2 separate regions of the Homo sapiens genome follow, and region 1 is linked to region 2. Evidence: fine-mapped expression QTL. A gene starts in region 2. The other region holds a variant in brackets. All regions are shown on one strand. Distances are between the middles of the regions. Region 1 holds the start of ERF (ETS2 repressor factor). Region 2 holds the start of CD79A (CD79a molecule).

The links. PIP is the estimated chance that this variant, and not a neighbour inherited with it, causes the effect.
Region 1: its variant is fine-mapped to the expression of CD79A in lymphoblastoid cells (GEUVADIS, PIP 0.95).

The regions. Positions count from the first base shown.
Region 1 is chr19:42,251,952-42,262,374 of GRCh38, reverse strand. It overlaps ERF (ETS2 repressor factor), which reads left to right and starts at 7,247. Exons shown (of 4, transcript NM_006494.4): 1 at 7,247-7,397. The coding sequence starts at 7,376. RefSeq lists silencers at 3,562-3,762, 7,046-7,445, 7,456-8,145, 8,226-8,295, 8,386-8,505 and 2 more and enhancers at 3,581-4,401, 4,402-5,223, 6,019-6,550, 7,191-7,690. The variant G/TG (reference allele first, on the strand shown) is at 5,497.
Region 2 is chr19:41,871,070-41,880,774 of GRCh38, reverse strand. It overlaps CD79A (CD79a molecule), which reads right to left and starts at 3,496. Exons shown (of 5, transcript NM_001783.4): 1 at 3,392-3,496; 2 at 1,486-1,785; 3 at 1,122-1,240; 4 at 37-105. The coding sequence starts at 3,470. RPS19 (ribosomal protein S19) reads right to left here. Exons shown (of 6, transcript NM_001022.4): 6 at 7,850-9,424. The coding sequence ends at 9,398. RefSeq lists a silencer at 3,295-3,354 and enhancers at 4,762-4,831, 7,167-7,416, 8,730-8,989, 9,230-9,299.

The sequences.
Region 1 (10,423 bases), 380 kb before region 2:
TGAGCCTAAGGGTGTCAAGGCTGCTGTGAGCTGTGATCGCACCACTGCACTCCAGCCAGACAACAGAGTGAGACCCTGTCAAGAAGGAAAAAGAGGAAAGAAAGAAAGAGAGAGAGAGAGAGATCAGAGACGAGAGAGAGAGAGAGAGAGAGAGGGAGGGAGGGAGACAGAAGGAGAGGAGAGAGATAAATAAACCAATAAATAAATAAATAACTGTGGGTGTAATCAGCATAGAGATGGCATATCCACTGTGGGACTGGTGGAGGTTATCAAGGGAATGAGTCTAGACAGGAGAAAAGAGGGATCTGAGCCCTGGTGCCTTCAGCATCTTCAGTCAGGGAGATGAGAAAGAGTGATACTCTAAGGGGGTGACATTCTGTTTAGAGGTGGTCACACTGTGTATGGTGGCTATACCATATGAGATGAGTCATACTATTCATTTTTTAAATTTTTGTTTTGTTTTGATAGAGAACACTGCAACAGGGTTTTGCAGAGGGGGAGAGATTGGACTCAATCCCCCGCATCACACTATCTTTTTTTCTTAAGAAACAGGGTTAGGCCGGGTGCAGTGGCTCACGCCTGTAATCCCAGCACTTTTGGAGGCTGAGGCAGGCGGATCACGAGGTCAGGAGATCGAGACCATCCTAGCTAACATGGTGAAAGCCCATCTCTACAAAAAATACAAAAAATTAGCTGGGCGTGGTGGCGGGCCTCTGTAGTCCCAGCTACTTGGGAGGCTGAGGCAGGAGAATGGCGTGAACCCGGGAGGCTGAGTTGCAGTGAGCTGAGATTGCGCCACTGCACTCCAGCCTGGGCGACATGGTGAGACTCCGTCTCAAAAAAAAAAAAAGAAAGAAAGAAACAGGGCTCGGTGGCTCACGCCTGTAATCCCAGCACTTTGGGAGGCTGAGGCAGATCACGAGGTCAGGAGTTCAAGACCAGCCTGTCCAACATGTTGAAACCCCATCTCTACTAAAAATACAAAAATTAGCCGGGCATGGTGGTGGGCACCTGTAATCCCAGCTACTTGGGAGGCTGAGGCAGAAGAATAGGTTGAACCCGGGAGGCGGTGGTTGCAGTGAGCCAAGATTGTGCCACTGCACTCCAGCCTGGGTAATAGAGAAAGACTCTGTCTCGGGGGGGAAGAAAACAGGGTTTTCAGCCAGGCGTGGTGGCGGGTACTTGTAATCGCAGCTACTTGGGAGGCTGAGGCAGAATTGCTTGAACCCAAGAGGTGGAGGTGACAGTGAGCCGAGATCGTGCCAACGCACTCCAGCCTGGGTGACGAAGCGAAATTCCACCTCAAAAAAAAAATAATAAATAAAAAATAAAAAAGCTGGGTGTGGTGGCTCAGGCCTGTAATCTCAGCACTTCAGGAGGCCAAAGAGGGTGGTTACCTGAGGTCAGGAGTTTGAGACCAGCGTGGCAACATGGTGAAACCCTGCCTCTACTAAAAATACAAAAACAAATTAGCTGGGCATGGTGGCGTGCGCCTGTAATCCTAGCTACTCGGGAGTCTGAGGCAGGAGAATCACTTGAACCCAATCTCAGCTCACTGCAACATCTGTCTCCTGGGTTCAATCGATTCTCCTGCCTCAGCCTTCTGAGTAGCTGGGGTTACAGGCACCCGACACCATGTCCAGCTAATTTTTGTAGTTTTAGTAGAGACAGGGTTTCACCATGTTGGCCAGGCTGGACTTGAACTCCTGACCTCAGGTGATCCACCTGCCCACCTCAGCCTCCCAAAGTGCTGGGATTACGGGCATGAGCCACCGCACCTGGCCAATATTTCACCATCTCTACCATCTCTGGGGGTGGGTATCAGTGTTGATAAAGCAATTGGAGTCACATAGGCCACTGAAAGATTACAATATCCATGGACACGTTTGCACAAACCACCAAACTTAAGAGGCCCAGACGACATTTTCACGAGGGACTTTCACTCTCCGCGGATCGTTCAGATTCTCCCACGAGGCATGCCGATCATCCGTGATTGTGTTTCATAGAAACACTGAGTTTGAGCCAACCATCTGGGTCAGAGTGGGATTATGACATTAATACACAATTTCACACTGTCAGTGCAGTGTGCTTTATTTTTTTAAATTTTATTTTTAAGAAAAAATGTCCCTTAACACCTAGGTGATGGGTTGATAGGTGCAGTAAACCACCATGACACACGTTTACCTATGTAACAAACCTGTACGTCCTGCACATGTATCCCAGAACTTAAAATAAAAATTAAAAAAAAAAAAAAGAAGAAAAAGAAAACATAAGCCTGGGCTGCCCTTTGGACACCACGGACACAGATCTGCCAGTAAGAACCATCCTCCCGGCCAGGCTTGGTGGCTCACGCCTGTAATCCCAGCTCTTTGGGAGGCCGAGGTGGGCGGATCACCTGAGGTCAGGAGTTCGAGACCAGCCTGGCCAACATGGAGAAACCCCATCTCTACTAAAAACACAAAATTAGCCGGGCGTGGTGGCGCAAGCCTGTAATCTAGGCTACTCGGGAGGCTGAGGCAGGAGAATTGCTTGAACCTGGGAGGAAGAGGTTGCAGTGAGCTGAGATCCTGCCACTGCACTGCATCCTGGGTGACACAGGGAGACTCCATCTCAAATAAATAAAAAAAAAAATAAATAAATTTTTTGTAGAGAGAGTCTCACTCTGTTGCCCAGGCTGGTCTTGAACTCCTGGCCTCTTGAAATTCTCCTGCTTCGGCCTCCCAAAGTGCTGGGATTACATGTGTCAGACACAAACTGCAGCCAGCCTGTTTATTGCTGTTTACTCTAACTGTTGTTACAGTTGGAGTCTGTAGGGTAGAGTGCTCTTGTTATCCATGGGGCATAGAGTTCACTCTGCTAATAATTATTAACAGTATTTATTGCATACTTACTTTGCATCTCTGATTTTTCTTTTTTTCTTTTTTTTTTTTTTTTAAGACGGAGTATCGCCCTGTCACTCAGGCTGGAGTGCAATGGCATGATCTCGGCTCACTGCAACCTCCGCCTCCCGGGTTCAAATGATTCTCCTGCCTTAGCCTCCTGAGTAGCTAGGATTACAGGCGCCAGCCACCACGCCCAGCTAATTTTTGTATTTTTAATAGAGACGGGTTTTCACCATGTTGGCCAGGATGGTCTGGAACTCCTGACCTCAGGTGATCCACCTGCCTCGGCCTCACAAAGTGCTGGGATTACAGGTGTGAGCCACCTCGCCTGGCCACATCTCTGATTTTTCACAATAACTTGATCATGTAGGATCTATTAACACCTCCATTTTACAAATGAGGAAAATTGAGGCTCAAAGAGGTGAACTTGGCCAGGCGCAGTGGCTCACGCCTGTAATCCCAGCACTTTGGGAGGCCAAGGAGGGCGGATCACGAGGTCAGGAGATCGAGACCATTCTGGCTAACACGGTGAAATCCCGTCTCTACTAAAAATACACAAAATTAGCTGGGCGTGATGGCGGGTGCCTGTAGTCCCAGCTACTCGGGAGGCTGAGGCAGGAGAATGGCGTGAACCCGGGAGGCGGAGCTTACAGTGAGCCGAGATAGCGCCACTGCAGTCTGGCCTGGGCGAAAGAGCGAGACTCCATCTCAAAAAAAAAAAAAAAAAAAAAGAGGTGAACTTCGCTAGGCAGGGTGACTCACACCTGTAATTCCAGCACTCTGGGAGGCCAAGGTGGGCGGATCGTTTGAGCCCAGGAGTTGGAGACTATCCTGGTCAACACAGAGAGACCCCAACTCCACTAAAAATAAAAAAAAATTAGCTGGGTTGGCTGGGCATGGTGGCTCACGCCTGTAATCCCAGCACTTTGGGATGCTGAGGCGGGTGGATCATCTGAGGTCAGGAGTTCAAAACCAGCCTGACCAACATGGAAAAACCCCGTCTCTACTAAAAATACAAATTAGCTGGGCGTGGTGGCGCATGCCTGTAATCCTAGCTACTCGGGAGGCTGAGGCAGGAGAATTGCTTGAACCCAGGAGACGGAGGTTGCGATGTGCCAAGATGGTGTCACTGCACTCCAGCCTGGGCAAGGAGAGCAAAACTGCGTCTCAAAAAAAAAAAAAAAAAAAAAAAGCTGGGCATGGTGGTGGGCGCTTGTAATTCCAGCTACTCAGGAGGCTGAGACAGGAAAATTGCTTGAACCAGGGAGGCAGAGGTTGCAGTGGGCCAAGATCGTGCCATTGCACTTACAGCCTGGGTGACAAGAGCAAAATTCCATCTCAAAAAAAAAAAAAAGTAACTGGGCATGGTGGCATGTGTCTGTAGTCCCAGCTACTCAGGAGGCTGAAGTGGGAGAATTGCTTGAGGCAGGGAAGTCGAGGCTGTAGTGAGCCATTATTGTGCCACTGCAATCCAGCCTGGGCAACACAGTGAGACCCCCATCTCAAAAAAAAAAAAAAAAAAAAAAAGAGGTGAACTGAGTTCACTTGCCTTGTCAGAGACAAGAAGTAGCAAAGGTTGGGTGTAACAGCCAGGTGTGGTGGCTCACACATGTAATCCCAGCACTTTGGGAGGCTGAGGCTGGCGGATCACGAGGTCAGAAGATTGAGACCATCCTGGCTAACACGGTGAAACCCTGTCTCTACTAAAAATACAAAAGATTAGCCGGGCGTGGTGGGGGGCGCCTGTAGTCCCAGCTACTCAGTAGGCTGAGGCAGGAGAATGGCGTGAACCCGGGAGGCGGAGCTTGCAGTGAGCCGAGATGGGGCCACTGCACTCCACCCTGGACGACAGAGTGAGACTCCGTCTCAAAAAAAAAAAAAAAAGGTTGGGTGTAACTCATCTCTGTCTTGCTGGTGGGAGGGTAGGGGTCACTGGGTTTGTTACTGATGTGTTATCTTTTTGTTTGTTTGTTTGTTTTGAAACTGAGTTTCGCTCTTGTTGCCCAGGCTGGAGTGCAATGGCGCGATCTCAGCTCACCGCAACCAACCCCCTCCCGGGTTCAAGCGATTCTACCTTAGCCTCCCGAGCAGCTGGGATTACAGACATGCACCACCAAGCCCGGCTAATTTTTTGTATTTTTAGTAGGGACGGGGTTTCTCCATGTTGGTCAGGCTGGTCTCGAACTACAGACCTCAGGTGATCCACCTGCCTCGGCCTCCCAAAGTGCTGGGATTACAGGCGTGAGCTACCGCGCCCAGCCTTTTTATTTATTTATTTTTAGACGGAGTTTTGCTGTTACCCAGGGTGGAGTGCAGCGGAGCGATCTCGGCTCACTACAGCCTCCGCCTCCTGGATTCAAGCGATCCTCCTGGGTTCAAGCGATTCTCCTGCCTCAGCCTCCTGAGTAGCCGGGATTACAGGTGCGCCACCACGCCTGGCAAATTTCTGTACTTTTAGTAGAGATGGGGTTTCACCATGTTGGCCAGGCTGGTCTGGAACTTCTGACCTGAAGTGATCTCCCGCCTCGGCTCCCAAAGTGCTAGGTTTACAGGCGTGCGCCACTGCGCCGGGCCCTGATGTAGTATCTTTGAAAATCTGCATTTTTTTTTTTTT[G/TG]GAGGGGGTAGTAAAAGAGGTAATAAAGCATAATGGTAAAGGGTAAATGTGGTGGTTTGGAATTGGTTAGATCTGGGTTCGAATCTTAGTTCCAATACTTCCTGGCTGTAAGATTTAGTGGACTGATTTTCCCTCAGAGAGCATCACTTTCTTTATCTGTAAATGGGGATAACAGCAGTAATTCCCCTCGTTGGGATTTTGTGAGGATTAAATGAGAAGATGCCCCTGACAATGCTTGGCCCGGTGCCTGGCACATCATGAACACTCGGAATTCGGGAGCTGTTATTCGAACAATGAAGATGATTATTATTGCTGGACCACACCGCTCCCAGAGGGTTACAATATCCGTGGGGGAGCTGTACTGTCCGTAGGCAAGGTTACATAATTCCCGGGGGTTGTGGGGGAAAGCTTCCCTGGAGCCCTTGGTCTCCCCAAGGAGGAGGCCTGAGACTTTTTTTTTTAGGCACTGGTGAGGAGCCTGTCTAAGGTGGACTAGGTACCCCGCAAGCGAGGAGGCTGGGATTGAAGCCCTGGGTACCGGGAGCCTGAGCTCCGCAGGCCTTCCCTATCTGTGACTTTTCTGTCTCCCCGCCCATCTTCTGGATTCGTCCCCCACCCAGCCCCCCCAACTCCCGCCCGCCACCCATACGCCCCTCCTTCGGAACCTCAGAGTCTTTTTTGAGACTCTGTTTCCAGGCTATGCCTGTGAATATTGCTTCTATTTGGCCTCTACCCTGCTGCCGGCTCCTGGGCTCCATCAGATCTGCGCTGTGATTTCCTGTTTCCCAGAGCCTCAGGCTTCATCCTTCCCTCCCGGCTGAGGCAGAGAACGGAGACTTAACACTTCTCTACGCTCTGGCTTTCGATCTTAAGCCCTGTCTTCCTCTCTCCTGGCGACCCTCAGTGCCCCTTGGGAGCACATTTGTTCAGACTTTGGTCGCCCCCTCGTATCCCGGCCCCGCCTCCGGAACCCCCGGTCCTAGTAGTGGACGTGGGGGGACCTCCGGCGCCAGCCCTATCCCCGGGACAGCTGCAGCCTGGGGACGGTGGTGGTGGGGGCTTCCAAATGCATTCTCTCTGGTCACTTCCTCCCCAGCTGGACGGGGGTTATCAGGGAAGCCAAGACCCCATCCCCACAGGAGCGGAGGGCACAGCCGCCTCCCCATTTCCGATGCTGGGAAATGCATCCCACCCATTCCACCCCACCCCTGGACAGCTGCCCCCATTCAGGCTCAGGGTTGGGGGGTTGGGTAAAACCAAGCTGGGAAATGCTGTGGTCTTCATCATCTTCTAAGGTCCTGACCCCGCCCCTCTGCAGAGAAGATTCTGCCCCCTCCCCACAAAAGTTTCTGACCCCCGCTTCCTCGGAAGGGCCCCCCGTTTTCCCATACAGGCTCCCAAAAGAAACTCTGGAGCCCGCAGTGGGCAGGAGAGGAGGAGGGGCAGCAGGTAGCGAGTGCCGAAGACTTAAGTTAGCTGCAGACTCGGAGCCTCTGACTAGGGTCATGACCCGCGGGACCCCATCCCACCCCCACCCCCTCCTTCCTCCCTCCCCCGCCGCGCGGCCCCTTTAAGCCCAGAGCCGGCCGGTCCTCAGTGGCTGCGCGCCGACGAGCGTGTGTGTGAGTGCGCGGGGAGGGGGCGGGCGCAGTGTCTCCATGGCGACGCGGCGGTGACGTCGCCGGCCGGGGGGCGTGGGCGTCCCGGCCCCGGAGTGCGATATTAACCCGGGAGGCGGCGGCGGGGAGGGGAGAGGCTCTGAGAGGCGAGGCCGGGTGAGGCGGCGAGGGCGGCCCGACGGGCGCGGGACGGGACGGGGCAGCGAGGGCGCCGGGAGCCGCGGCCCGGAATCGGGGCGCTTCGCCCCGGGCCCCCCAGCATGAAGACCCCGGCGGACACAGGTGGGGGCGGGGGCAGCACGTGTGGGGGAGACTTGTTGCCCCGGGAAACCGAACGGAGAAACTTTGGGGGGGCTGAAGGGGTCCGGGGGAGCCCGAGTGATCCCCAGTTCTGGGGGACCCCTCAAGCACTGGAGACCTGTTGCTTCTCGTGGCGCGAGCGGGGTTGCTGCCTGGGACCCCCGATTCCTGGCTCCGGGCGGAGTGGTGTGGGTGCTGCGGGTCTTGGTCCTGTATCCCTACCGGGACCCCGCAGGCCGGGCTCTCCCCCACTCCCGGGATCACGGGGGTGGCGGGGTCCTTCCCCTCCGCTCTTGTCACGTTGCACTCTGGGGGCCGGGACGTGTGCGGGGCGGGGGGGCTCGTCCACCGGGCCCGCTATCCCTGGTTCTGCGCTGCGCGGTCCTGCTGGTGACCTTCACGGCGGCGCGTGCCCTGCACCAGGTTAGCGGGGGATACGGGATGGCCTCTAGGAGGAGGGCGTGAGTGGGGAGCCCGGGACTCGGGGTCCTGGCTGCGCCGCCCCTCCCCCGCCCGCCTCTGTCGGCTCCTCGCTCCCCCGCCCTCGCCGAGTCGCAAAGTTCCAAAGCGCAGCCCGAACGTTCGAAAAAGGAACTTTTTGTTTCCGACCTTAGAACGCGCGGCTTTAAGGTGGCTCCGGGGAGACCTGGGTACCCTCCTCCCGCGCCACCGGTGGCCCGGGGTTGAGGAGGGTGGGGAAGGTGGGGGGAGACGCAGAGGCTCCCCCCTCGCCCCCCCTCCCGGATCCACCTCTTCTCTTTCAGCGGGCCGTCTCTTCCCTCCGCCCCTCTCTTCCCCGCCAACTTGCTCCTCCTTAAGGGGCCAAGGTTCCCCTCCCCCTCGGTCGGCGGGCGGGGGGCAGCGGGATTAACTCCCCCTCCCACTCGGACTTTTCCCCCTCCCCTCCCCCGCCGCCCCCGGGCTCGCGCGGGCTGGACTTTGCGCCCGAGCGCGCAGGGGGAGGGGTCCCAGCCGCCCCCTGCCCGTCTACCCCGTCGGAATCCGGCCCGGGGCGGGGACGGGGGAGGGGGAAGGGGGCCGGGCGCCGCTGTTCAAACTTGTTTCCTTCCCCCGGCGGCGGCGGCGGCGGCGGCGGCGGCTCGGGCTCCTGTGTGCGGGTGTGTGCCCCGACCGGCCCACCCACCCCACCCCATCCCCACCCCATTCCCACCCCATTCCCATCCCCATCCCCCTGCTCGGCGGGTGGGGGCGGCTTAATCTTAAAGGGCTCCGAGCTGGGATCCGGCGCCAGGGGATTGGGACCCGGACCGAGGAGGGGCCCTGGGGGTGGGGCCGGGGTGCGGAGTGCGGTAGGGTCAGTCACGTGCGTCCTACACACTCCCCCGGCTTCCACTCGCTCCCGGGTGGCTGGGCCCTGGGGGCAGCAGGAGCCTACCCTCGCCCAAGGAGGAGGCCGAGGCACCCAGACAACCTCGCTTCATCTTCTCTCCCTGCTACCGGCCTTGGCCTGATAGGATCCGCGGGTCGCTTCCCCAACCCTGTCGGGGGGCGGGACAGTGTGTGGGTTTTCCGGCTGGGGGAGGGGAGGGGAAGGAGGCCTGGAATGGCCTCCGATCGGTGCATCTTTCCCGTCTGCCTCCTGGCCTGCCGCTCCGCACCCCTCCATCCAGTTCTCCATCCCGGTCCCTCTCTCTGCCGTGGCTGTTTCCCACTTCCTGTTTTCTTCCCGGCTCTGGCGCCATAGAGGGCCGCCTGGAGTGGGGGAGGTGGTGGGGCCCCCCAGGAGGCCGGCGTGTTCTTCCTCTGCCACCACTCCTCCCTTCCGACCCTCATAGTCCCTTAAAAAAAGTTTGGGCCGTCACGTGAGGTTGGGGGGTGCCCAGGAGTTTTGTCCCCCCAGGCTTGCATAGTCTGTCTGGGAGAATCCCTACCCCGCCTCTGTGGGACCCAGGTGTGCTTCTGGGACCTCGCCATCCCAGCCCTTGCTGTCTGACTGCTGCCACTTCTGCACTCTGTCTCGCAGTCTCCTGAACCCCTCTCTCCATGTGCCTGCTCTCTCCCTGCCTCACTGGCCCCCATGTTCCCGAGGTCCCGCACCCCCAAGCTTCCTCCGTGCAGGTCTGGTGTTTCCCTGTTTTAAGCACGTGGACGCATACACAGCACACTCACACATGCTCCCCTTGCCCGTGCCTGGCTCCTGGCTCCAAGGCCTGGGGAACAGAGCCCCATTGAGACACCCTGACGTCACCCCCTCTTCATTCTCCCCCCCCCAAAGCCGGGAACAGGCCTTCATGTATGCTGTGTCCGATGAGGAAAGCCGCCGTTGTGGTGGGCTTGGGAGTGGGGAAGGGTCCCTGCCAGAAGTGGGAGCCAGGGTCCAGGCCCTGGAGGAGGGGTTGCTCAGGGAAGGGGTTTAACAAGGGGGCCTGGGACAGCTCCCAGAATGCGGCTTGAGGCCTTTCCAGAGCCCCCCCACCTCCTTTCCGAGTTCCCTTTGTGTTGCATGTAGTCTCTCTCACTCCCTCTCTTCTGCAAAGTTTATTTTTAGCCTCCTGCTCCCCCGCTCCCAGGACTGTCGCTGCACACACGTTGCCTGGTTACCGGGACACGGAGGCTGGGGCGGGTGGGCTGGGAAGGGTGGCTTTAATTTTGGGGGGAGGGTGGAAGTCAGTACATCCCCCACCCCCAGATTGATGTCTCAGGGGCTTTGGCCCCCCTTCTAGGTCTAGAGCCAGATTGGGGCTGAGGTGGAAGTAACATGGAGCTTGGTTCCCTGAGAGGGGCTGGGAGCTTTTTGGAGGGGATATGAGGGTCCATGAAGCTGGTGGCTGGGTCACCTGGGTTCCAAAGGACCCTGGGCCTTGCAGGAGACCTTGTGATCTGGATTCTCTAGAAGGGTGAGGATAATGGGTTGAACACCTAGATTCCCAAGAGAGCGATGGTGCTCTGGGGTCTCTGGAAGGGGTTGTCAAAGGCTGTCACTTTTAAATGGAACAGGGGCTGTTGGTGCTGGTCTGTGAACAGCTGGAGGTCATATCCCTGGCACC
Region 2 (9,705 bases):
ACAACTGCCCCTACCCCATCCCCACCCTTCACTCACTTCATAAAGGTTTTCATCTTCATATTCATCCCCGGCATCCAACCCGAGCTTCTCGTTCTGCCATCGTTTCTGTAGGGGTGGGTGGGGTGGGTGCCTCAGTGAGCAGGGGGAGGTGAATATCTTTCAGACCCTCCTGGATGCCAGGAAGTACTTTTCCAGAAAGGGTAAGAGATGTCCCCAAGGCCACATACTGGTTATGTAACAGTTCTCTCTGAGTCTACAACCAGTGTTCTCCTTCCTTCCTTCCTTCCTTCCTTCCTTCCTTCCTTCCTTCCTTCCTTCCTTCCCTTCCCTTCCTTCCCTCCCTCCCTCTCGCCCTCTCTCTCTCTCTCTCTCTCTCTCTCTCTTTCTCTCTCTCTCTCTTTCTTCTCCCTCAGTTGCCCAGGCTGAAGTGCTGTGGCAACATCATATTTCACTGCAGCCTTGAACTCCTGGGCTCAAGCAATCCTCCCACCTCAGCCTCCTGAGTAGCTGGGACTATAGGTGTGTGCCACCATGCCTGGCTAATTTTTTTTTAAGACTTTGTGTGTGTAGAGATAGGGTCTTGCTGTGTTGCCCAGGCTGGTCTCAAACTTGTGGCCTCAAGTGATCCTCTTGCCTCGGCCTCCCAAGCTAGCGTCTTCTTGAGTCTCCACTCCCTTACTATTCTCCATGAATAATAACAATAACAGTCACACTTTCTGTAGTGCCTAAGGAGAGGCTGGTACAGATCAGAGATTCTGGGAGGACCAGGCCCCACCTTCCCTGGTCTTGGCTACACCTGGAGGGTAACCACACTCCTGGGTGAGGGCAGGAGGGGAGTGAGGACACTCTTAGGGAGAAGAATGAGACTCTTCTTGGGGGGAGGTGGACGTGAGGACAGCCCAGAAGGGGAAACTAAATTGAAGACACCCCCTGGGCTCAGCGCCAGTTCAAGTCCCTTCTTTATATTCATTCATTTAACTCCCACAGCCCCTATATGGTGGGTGCTTTCATTCTCCCAAGTTTTGGATGGGGAACCTCAGGCTCTAGAGGGCTACCTGGGTATTGGGGGTCCCTCGGCCCAGGCCCTCGCCCGGCTGACTCAGAGGTCCGAGGGGGCTCACCCTGAACAGCAGCAGCGTCCCAGGCACCACCGCGCAGAACAGGAGGATGATCCCCTCGGCTGTGATGATTCGGTTCTTGGTGCCCTCCCCCATGTCCAGGAAGGGCCTGGGGGGCGGCTCTGCAAGGAGGTAGTATGGCTCAGAGCCCTGGCCCCTCTTGCCCTCCCTAGCCTCCTGGCCCCGCCCACCTCCTGCAAGGCCCCAGACCCCCCAGAGACCCCACTCTGCAGAGGAGAATGTCCGTCCCTCTGTCCAAGCCGGTTTGAAACCCACATTGAAGGTACTGGCTCTATCCCCACTTCAAAGATAAACCGAGTGTCCCCAGCGGGACAGTGGGAGTAGGGGCCAGGGCTGGGCCACTCACGGCGCACGCGGAGGTAGGTGCCGCAGGACTGCTGGTATGACTCGTTGCCCTCCTGGACCCGGCACACGTATATGCCCCCATGGCTCTTGTTCACATTCTGGATGATCAGCGTACCATTGGGGTCCTCGCCCGGGCCCAAGAACTCAGGGGGCCACGTGTAGTTGCCATGGAGGACGCGCCACCAGGTGACGTTGGCGTTGTTGCTGCTATTGTGCGGGCATTGGAAGTGGGCGTCTTCCCCCAGGCTCACCATCAATGATGCTGGGACCTTGTGCATCCACAGGGCCTGGCACCCAGGGCCTGTGGAGAGACAGGGTGGGTGGGTCAGGGACTGGGGATGGTGACACATTTCCCCAGCCCTGGCCCCTGCAGTTCCAGCACTCCTGGGAAGAGGGTGAGGACTCTCCTGGGTGGGGAGGGAGAGAGAGAGCCCCTGACAGGGGCTGATACATCCTGGGGAGAGGGGGGATGCGGGAAAGTGAAGAAGCCCCTGGGAAGGAGAGAGGACATACCTGGTTGGGGTGGGTGAGGATATCCTGGGAGAGGAGAATGAGACTCCCTGGGATGGTAAGACCCCTGGGAGGCCCTTCTCACCTCTGCAGCGCCATCTCTTGCCCCCCTCCCGCATACCCACTTTGTACTCTGGCCCTGTGAACTCTCTGGATTTTGGATGTTTGTTCCAGGCACTGGAGGACCGCTGTCCAGACAGCTCCTTCCAGAAGCAGTGCAGGCGTCCCCTCCTCCCGCAGCCTTCCCGGTCCATTTTTGCACCCCAGCCTCAGCCAGGCCCAGCACCTGGCGCTTTTTCTTGTGTAATCATTCACAGAACCCTAGAAGTAGGTTCTCTCCTTAGCCCCATTTTACAGGAGGGATGGCTGAGGCTCTGGGAGGGCAGGCGGGTTGCCAGCATCACCAGGCAGTCAGGAGTGGCACTGGGTTCAAACTCTTGGCTCCCTGGCCTCTCCCTGCCTGGGCTGAGGAGCCAGTCTGTGGCCTGCCCTGGCCTGTGACCCTGTGCCTGGCCCTCATTCTCTGTAAGTTGTATGTGTCAACCTAGGGGTCAGGGGTGAGTTCAGTCCTTGGGCTGGGCTGCTGGTGATTGAAGGGGCTCAGAGCGGGGTGGAGACTGGGGGTGTCTCTGAGTGAGACGAGGCGGCTCAGGCTGGCTGCAGTGTCCAATCCGGGCTCCTCTGGGAAGCCCCAGCTCTCAGCCAGGCCTCCCACATGGCCAGTCCCCTCTTCTGGAGGTAGGTGGAGGAGGGAGGTGAGGAAGAGAGAAGGAGGAAGAGATGGGGAGAGGGGCCGAGCACCCTCATCGTCACGGGCTTAAGACTCAGACGTGAACTCCAATCCTTGCTCCCAGTGTCCCCTTGGGTGGGGAACCTTTTTCTCTGAACTCCTGGGTTAGCGTGGCCACAGCCCCTGCCAGCTGTCCTTGAGCAGGTGAGGGGGAGTCCATGAGACACCCATTCCCCCAGTGCTGAGAAGGGACTCCCAACAGAGAGAGGCACCTGAGGTTTAAGGCAGAGAAAGCTTTTTCTCCCCTTGACAGACGCTGAATGCTGCTACCCCTAAGTCCCCTTCCTGCCCCCAGCCCTGGTGCTCAGTCAAGAGCAACTTTAGTTCCTTATTTTGGCCTGTGGGGAACAGGAGGTGGGGGAGGTGACTCTTGCTCCTGCCTCCCTGTGTGAGACTGTGGACGCCCCTTCTCCTTCGCTGGGCTCCCTCCAGCCCCACCTTGGCCCATCTTGGCACAGATACGATTTCTATAGGCATCTTCCCTGGGTCCCCTATCCTCTGCCTCCTCTTCCCCTTTCCCTGAGCCCCCTTCCCTCTGCCTGTGCCCTCTCTGCAGCCTCCACAGCTTCCCCCACCTCCCGCCAGTTCCTGCCCTTTGGCCACATACCCAGGTAGACAGCAGACAGCAGGAAGAGGAGGAAGATGGTGGCAGGCAGAGCTTGGAGGACTCCTGGACCCCCAGGCATCTTCTCCCAGTGGGTTGGTTAGTTTGAGTTGCAGCAGTCCCAGGGTACCAGATCCCTACCCCAAACCCCACCCTACTTCCTGCCCAGCCCCCCGGAGATGGGCTCCAGTGGCCCTCGCTACTGGGCCCTTTGCTTGTTGGGCCTGGGGACAGCCCCTGCCGGGTATGCTTCAGGCTGTGAGTGGAGAGAAACTGCTCCCTGCACCTGTGGTGGCCACAATTCCCCTGAGAGGTGGCTGCTTGGGTGGGGGAAGAGGCTGGTTCAAGGGCTGGCTCGTCACTGCTGAGCCTTTGGAAGGAAGCCTAGGGAACCTGAGTCCTGGGCATGTGTCATGGGCAGGTGATGGTTCTGAGCTTGACCTCTCCCCCTGCCTGGACTTGGGCAAACCTTGTCCCTTCCCTGACCCCATTTCCTTGCTTCTTGGGATTAGAAACAAGGACTTAAAGGGGTTGTCACATGCACAGAAATGGCCCACAGTAGGCGCCCAGTAAATGTTAGTCACTATAAATACTCATGAAGAATAAATAAGGCAGGCTGACCTGTGGCTGACTACCCGTGTGACTAGGTGGGCACTTTGATCCTTCGAAGCTTGACATTTTTCATCTGTGAGATGAGGACCAGAATGTCTCCCTGTCTCATTATGTGATACGAGATGGTGTTCCTGGTATTCAAGGAGTGAGAACCATGATCAGCTCTTTACTGGAATTCTTTTTTTAAAAAAACAGGCCAGCTATGGTGGCTTATGCCTGTAATCCCAGCCCTTTGGGAGGCTGAGACAGGAGAATCACCTGAGGTCGAGTTTGAGACCAGCCTGGCCAACATGGCGAAACCCCATCTCTACTAAAAATACAAAATTAGCCAGATGTTGTGGCACATGCCTATTATTCCAGCTACTCAGGAGGCTGAGGCAGGAGAATCAGTTGAACCCAGGAGGTGGAGGTTGCAGTGAGCTGAGATCACACCATTGCACTCCAGCCTGGGTGACAAAAGCGAAACTCTGTCTCTAATAATAACAATAATAACAACAACAACATATATTTTTCTTCTTTTTTTTTTTTAAGAGGGATGGGATCTTGCTATATTGCCCAGGCTGGTCTTGAACTCCTGGCCTCAAGCAATCCTCCTGCCTCAGCTTCCCAAAGTGCTGGGATTACAGGCATGTGCCACTGTGCACAGCCAGAAGTTGTTTTATATTGACCTGCCATGACTGGCAAGGTAGGCCATCCCCCATTTTACAGAGGGGGAAACCGAGGCCAGAGAGGGGAGGTTGTCACTTGCGGGTGTCATACAGTCTAGGGGTGGTGGACAGAGATTCAAAGTCATCTTTGTGTTGCTCCCAGTTTCCTTTGAGCATGTCTGGTAGGAGGGAAATGAGGTCTGAGTGGGGAGGGCGGAGTTGCTGAGATATTTGTGAGCAGTTAGGGGACCCTCACACACATACAAGGGGATATATAAAATAAATTTATTGCAGGGAGATTTTTGGTAGCAAACATTGAGAAGCAAATGAAAAGTCCATTTGTGGGAGAATGGGTGCATACACTGTGGCAAAGTGAGCCAACAGAATGCTACAGAATAGGGGAAGGTGTCATAAGGCTGTCTCAGAAACAGCACAAACATCAGAAAAAATATCGTAGCATGATACAGTTGACTTGTTTTCAAAAGGCGTCCGCTGCTTAGGGACACACGTTTGTAGCAGAGGTGTAGACCCGTGCAGGGGAGTGGCAAACGCCCAGTTCCTGGGAGGGGTTACCTCTGGGGGACGCCAGGGTTGGGTCTGGGGAGGGACACACAGAGACACAGAGAGCTCATCTTGTCTTGGTTTTATTTCCTGTGTTACTTTTTTTTTTTTTTTTTTTGAGACGGAGTCTCGCTTTGTCACCCAGGCTGAAGTGCAGTGGCGTGATCTTGGCTCACTGCAACCTCTGCCTCCCAGGTTCAAGTGATTCTCCTGCCTCAGCCTCCTCAGTAGCTGGGATTACAGGCGGCCACCACCATGCCTGGCTATATTTTTGTATTTTTAGTAGAGACCAGGTTTCACCATGTTGGGCAGGCTGGTCTCACACTCCTGACCTCAGGTAATCCACCCACCTCAGCCTCCCAAAGTGCTGGGATTACAGGCGGGAGCCACCGTGGCTGGCCACTTTTTTTTTTTTCTTTTTTAGAGATAGGGCCTCTCTCTGTCACCAAGGCTGGTGTCCAGTGGCATAATCATAACGTCAAACTCCTGGGCTCAAGTGATTCTCTTGCCTCAGCTTCCCAAGTAGCTGGGATTACAGGTGCACACACCATGCCTGGCTATTTTTAATTTTTTTTTTCTTTTGAGACAGAGTCTCGCTGTGTAGCCCAGGCTGGAGTGCGATGGTGTGATCTTGGCTCACTGCAACCTCCGCCTCCCGGGTTCAAGTGATTCTCCTGCCTCAGCCTCCTGAGTAGCTGGGACTACAAGCAGATGCCACCATGACCGGCTAATTTTTTGTATTTTTTTAGTAGAGATGGGGTTTCACCGTGTTAGCCAGGATGGTCTCAATCTCCTGACCTGATGATCCACTCGCCTCGGCCTCCCAAAGTGCTGGGATTACAGGCATGATCCACCGCACTGGGCCTATTTTTTAAATTTTTTGTAAAGACAGGGTCTCACTGTGTTGCCCAGGCTGGCCTGGAAGTCCTGACCTCAAGTGATTCTCCCAGCTTGGCCTCCCGAAGTGCTGGGATTATAGGCACTGCACCCTGCCCTGCCTGTGTTACTTAAACTGGGTTGTGCTTCATAGGTTTTTCTTACATTATGAATACTGAATGCTAAATACTTGCATGCCTGAAGTATTTCAGATTTTTTTTTTTGAGATGGAGTCTTGCTCTGTTGCCCAGGCTGAAGTGCAGTGGCGGCACAATCTTGGCTCACTGCAGCCTCCGCCTCCTGGGTTCAAGCTGTTCTCCTGTCTCAGCCTCCCAAGTAGCTGGAATTACAGGTGTGCACCACCATGCCCAGCCAATTTTTTTTTTCATAGACACAGGGTTTCACCATGTTGGCCAGGCTGGTCTCAAACTCTTTTTTTTTTTTTTTTTTGAGACGGTGTTTCACTCTTGTCGCCCAGACTGGAGTACAATGGTGCAATCTTGGCTCACTGTGACCTCCACTTCCTGCATTCAAGCGATTCTCCTGCCTCCACGTCCAGCTAATTTTTGTATTTTTTAGTAGAGACAGGGTTCCATCATGTTGGCCAGGCTGGTCTCGAACTTCTGACCTCAGGTGATCCACCTGCCTCGGCCTCTCCAAGTGTTGGGATTACAGGTGTGAGCCACCACTCCAGGCCAAGGTCTCAAACTCTTGACCTCAAGTGATCTGCCCACCTCTGCCTCCTAGAGTGCAGAATTTTAAAAAAGTGCAATTGCCAGCTGGGCGCGGTGGCTCACGCCTGTAATCCCAACACTTTGGGAGGCTGAGGCGGGCGGATCAGAAGGTCAGGAGATCAAAACCATCCTGGCTAACACAGTGAAACCCCGTCTCTACTAAAAATACAAAAATTAGCCGGGCATGGCGGCGTGTGCCTGTAGTCCCAGCTGCTGGGGAGGCTGAGGCAGAATGGCGTGAACCCAGGAGATGGGAAAAGGGCAATTCCCATCCACGCAGAAGAGCCTGGGCCTCAAGAGTCCAGGATTCTTTTACAACTCAGCTCTGCCAACTGACTGGTCATCTGAAACTCAGTTTTTTCTCCTATAACATGGGTACAAACCCCCCACTTGATAAGACTGCAAGAATATTCTGCAGTGCATTTGGCACAGTATCTAGGACAGTTCTGTAGCCCTGGGAACCAGGACCCCAGGTGTTCTGCTGGGGTCACTAGCCCCTCTGCACTTCAATTCCCCGTTACAACCCCCTCCCAGGAATAAGCCTGGCTCCAGACCTGGAAGCCCTAGGAATTCACCTTCAAGAGCCTTCGGTGGCTGAGCTTCTTTCTAGGCCCTCTACTGCTCCCCAGTGGCTGGAGCGGCGCGGCTGCGGGATTGCAGGCCTGCTCGGGACACCTAGACCTTGCTTCCTACCTGGGAAGCGCAATGCCTGCTGCTGTGCAAACCGGACGCTTGGCATTGAGTTCTCATGTCAGCTCTGGGAAATGTTTTCATTAATGGCCAAAAGAGGAAACTAGAGCCCAGAATGGGGAGTGACTGGCCTGCAGCTAGAGTGCAACCCTTTGGGCCTCTTTTCTGAGGCACAGAGCCCTTGGAGTGGCTAGGTCCAGGCTGCAGCTGGGTTGCTTGGGTTCATATGATGGCTCCAGCTGTGGGATATCTGGCAAGTTACCCAGCCTATGGCTTACTTTACCTACCTCCAAAGCACTTTTCGGCACTTACTTCACAGAGTTGCTGAGTGTAAACAACGGTGCTTTTAACATTTTTATTGATTCTTTTTTTGAAATGGAGTCTCGCTCTGTTGCCCAGGCTGGATTGCAATTGCTCGATCTCAACCCACTGCAACCTCCGCCTCCGGGGTTCGAGCGATTCTTCTGCCTCAGCCTCCTGAGTAGCTGGGATTACAGGTGCGCGCCACCATGCCCAACTAATTTTGGTATTTTTAGAGACAGGGTTTCTCCATGTTGGTCAGGCTGTTCTCAAGCTCCCAACCTCAGGTGATCAGCCCGTCTCGGCCTCCCAAAGTGTTGAGATTACAGGTGTGAGCCACTGTGCCTGGCCGATACTTCTTAAACTCTTACGCCTTACGTTTGGGGACTGCCAACTGAACTGTCCAGCAGCAGAGCTACTCAGAGCCAAGGCTCTCCACGGCATCTTGTCCAGTCTCTCAGGAGTTAGCAGGCTTACACACGAGGAGACGAAGGCTCAGAGGATAAGGTGCACAGGGTTACGTGGGATTAGGGGCAGAGTTGTGATTTAAACTCTAGTTTGAACTTCAAAACCCAGGCTCGCCCCTTTCCAGGAAATGGGTCAGATCCCAGGAATAATTTGGACAGGGGAATCCTGGGAGATATTGGCCAAACCAGTTTAGTCTTCCCAACTGGGAGGGACATCTGGTCACAGCGGGCCCTAAGTTTCTTTCCTGGCTTGCCCCTCCAGGGGTCGGACAGCTGCCCACTGGGTGCTATTTGGATCTCCCAGCCTGACCAGGTGCCCAATCATGGGCGGAGGCCACATCCCACTTGCCGTGCACGACTGCAAAGGTTGTGCAGCCCGTGTGTGGCCGCCCTGGTAATTCAACTTCTGCACAGGGATCTGCTTCCACCGACTTCCTGCCACTGCCACTCAGCGGGCCCAAGACCGCTCAGATGCAGAGTGAAGGCTCAAGGACCATTCAGCCTGTGCAGGCCCCAGGCCCAGGAAAGTTAGTGTGTAGGCAGCACAGGTCAGTTTGCGGTGGAGGCTCCCTGGTGGTCTGTCCTTTTCTACCTTCCAGGGAAGAGCATGAACCCTGGGCCCTCTTGCTTTACTCCAGCGGAAGCCACCTCTGCAGCCCAGGCCCAGCTGAGGTCACAGCTCACAGCCATCCTTTCGTTTCTCACTTTCTGACAATTGCAAAGACAGGATGTGGGGGAGTGAGCCACAAGGGCCCCTGGGTCCTTCCTCCAAACCCAGATGGGAACTGTTTGACCTGGGAAGGCCCGACTGGCTGCCGGGTAAACAGCCACCCAATCACCCTGGGCCCCCTCACCCAAGGGAAGGGAGGAAGCGCCTCTTCCTCATGCCCCTGAAGAACAATCAAGAGACCCAAACCAGACCAGGCACAGTGGCTCACACTTGTAATCCCAGCACTTTGGGAGGCTGAGGCAGGAGAATCATTTGAACCCAGAAGGCGGAGATTGCAGTGAGCTGAGATGGCGCCACTGCACTCCAGCCTGGGCGACAGAGCAAGAGACTCAAAAAAGAGACCCAGACCAGGATTACGAATGAGGCAATTTATTAACCCAGCATGGTTTGTTCTAATGCTTCTTGTTGGCAGCTGCCACCTGTGGGAAAAGATGGAAGAATAAAAGTTAGTCAAGGGGGTCTCTGCTGGGGCACTTTGTAACAGCTACCTAACTACCCACCACAGGTGGGCACCCCGATTTGTGGTTTCAAATGCATCTATCTCATCTAATTCTCACTGTGGGTATTCCCCCATTTCACAGACGTGGAAACTGAGTCTCAAGGGAGTGGCCAGGCACAGTGGCTCACACCTTTAATCCCAGCACTCTGGAAGGCCGAGGCAGGTGGATCACCTGAGGTCAAGAGTTCGAGACCAGCCTGA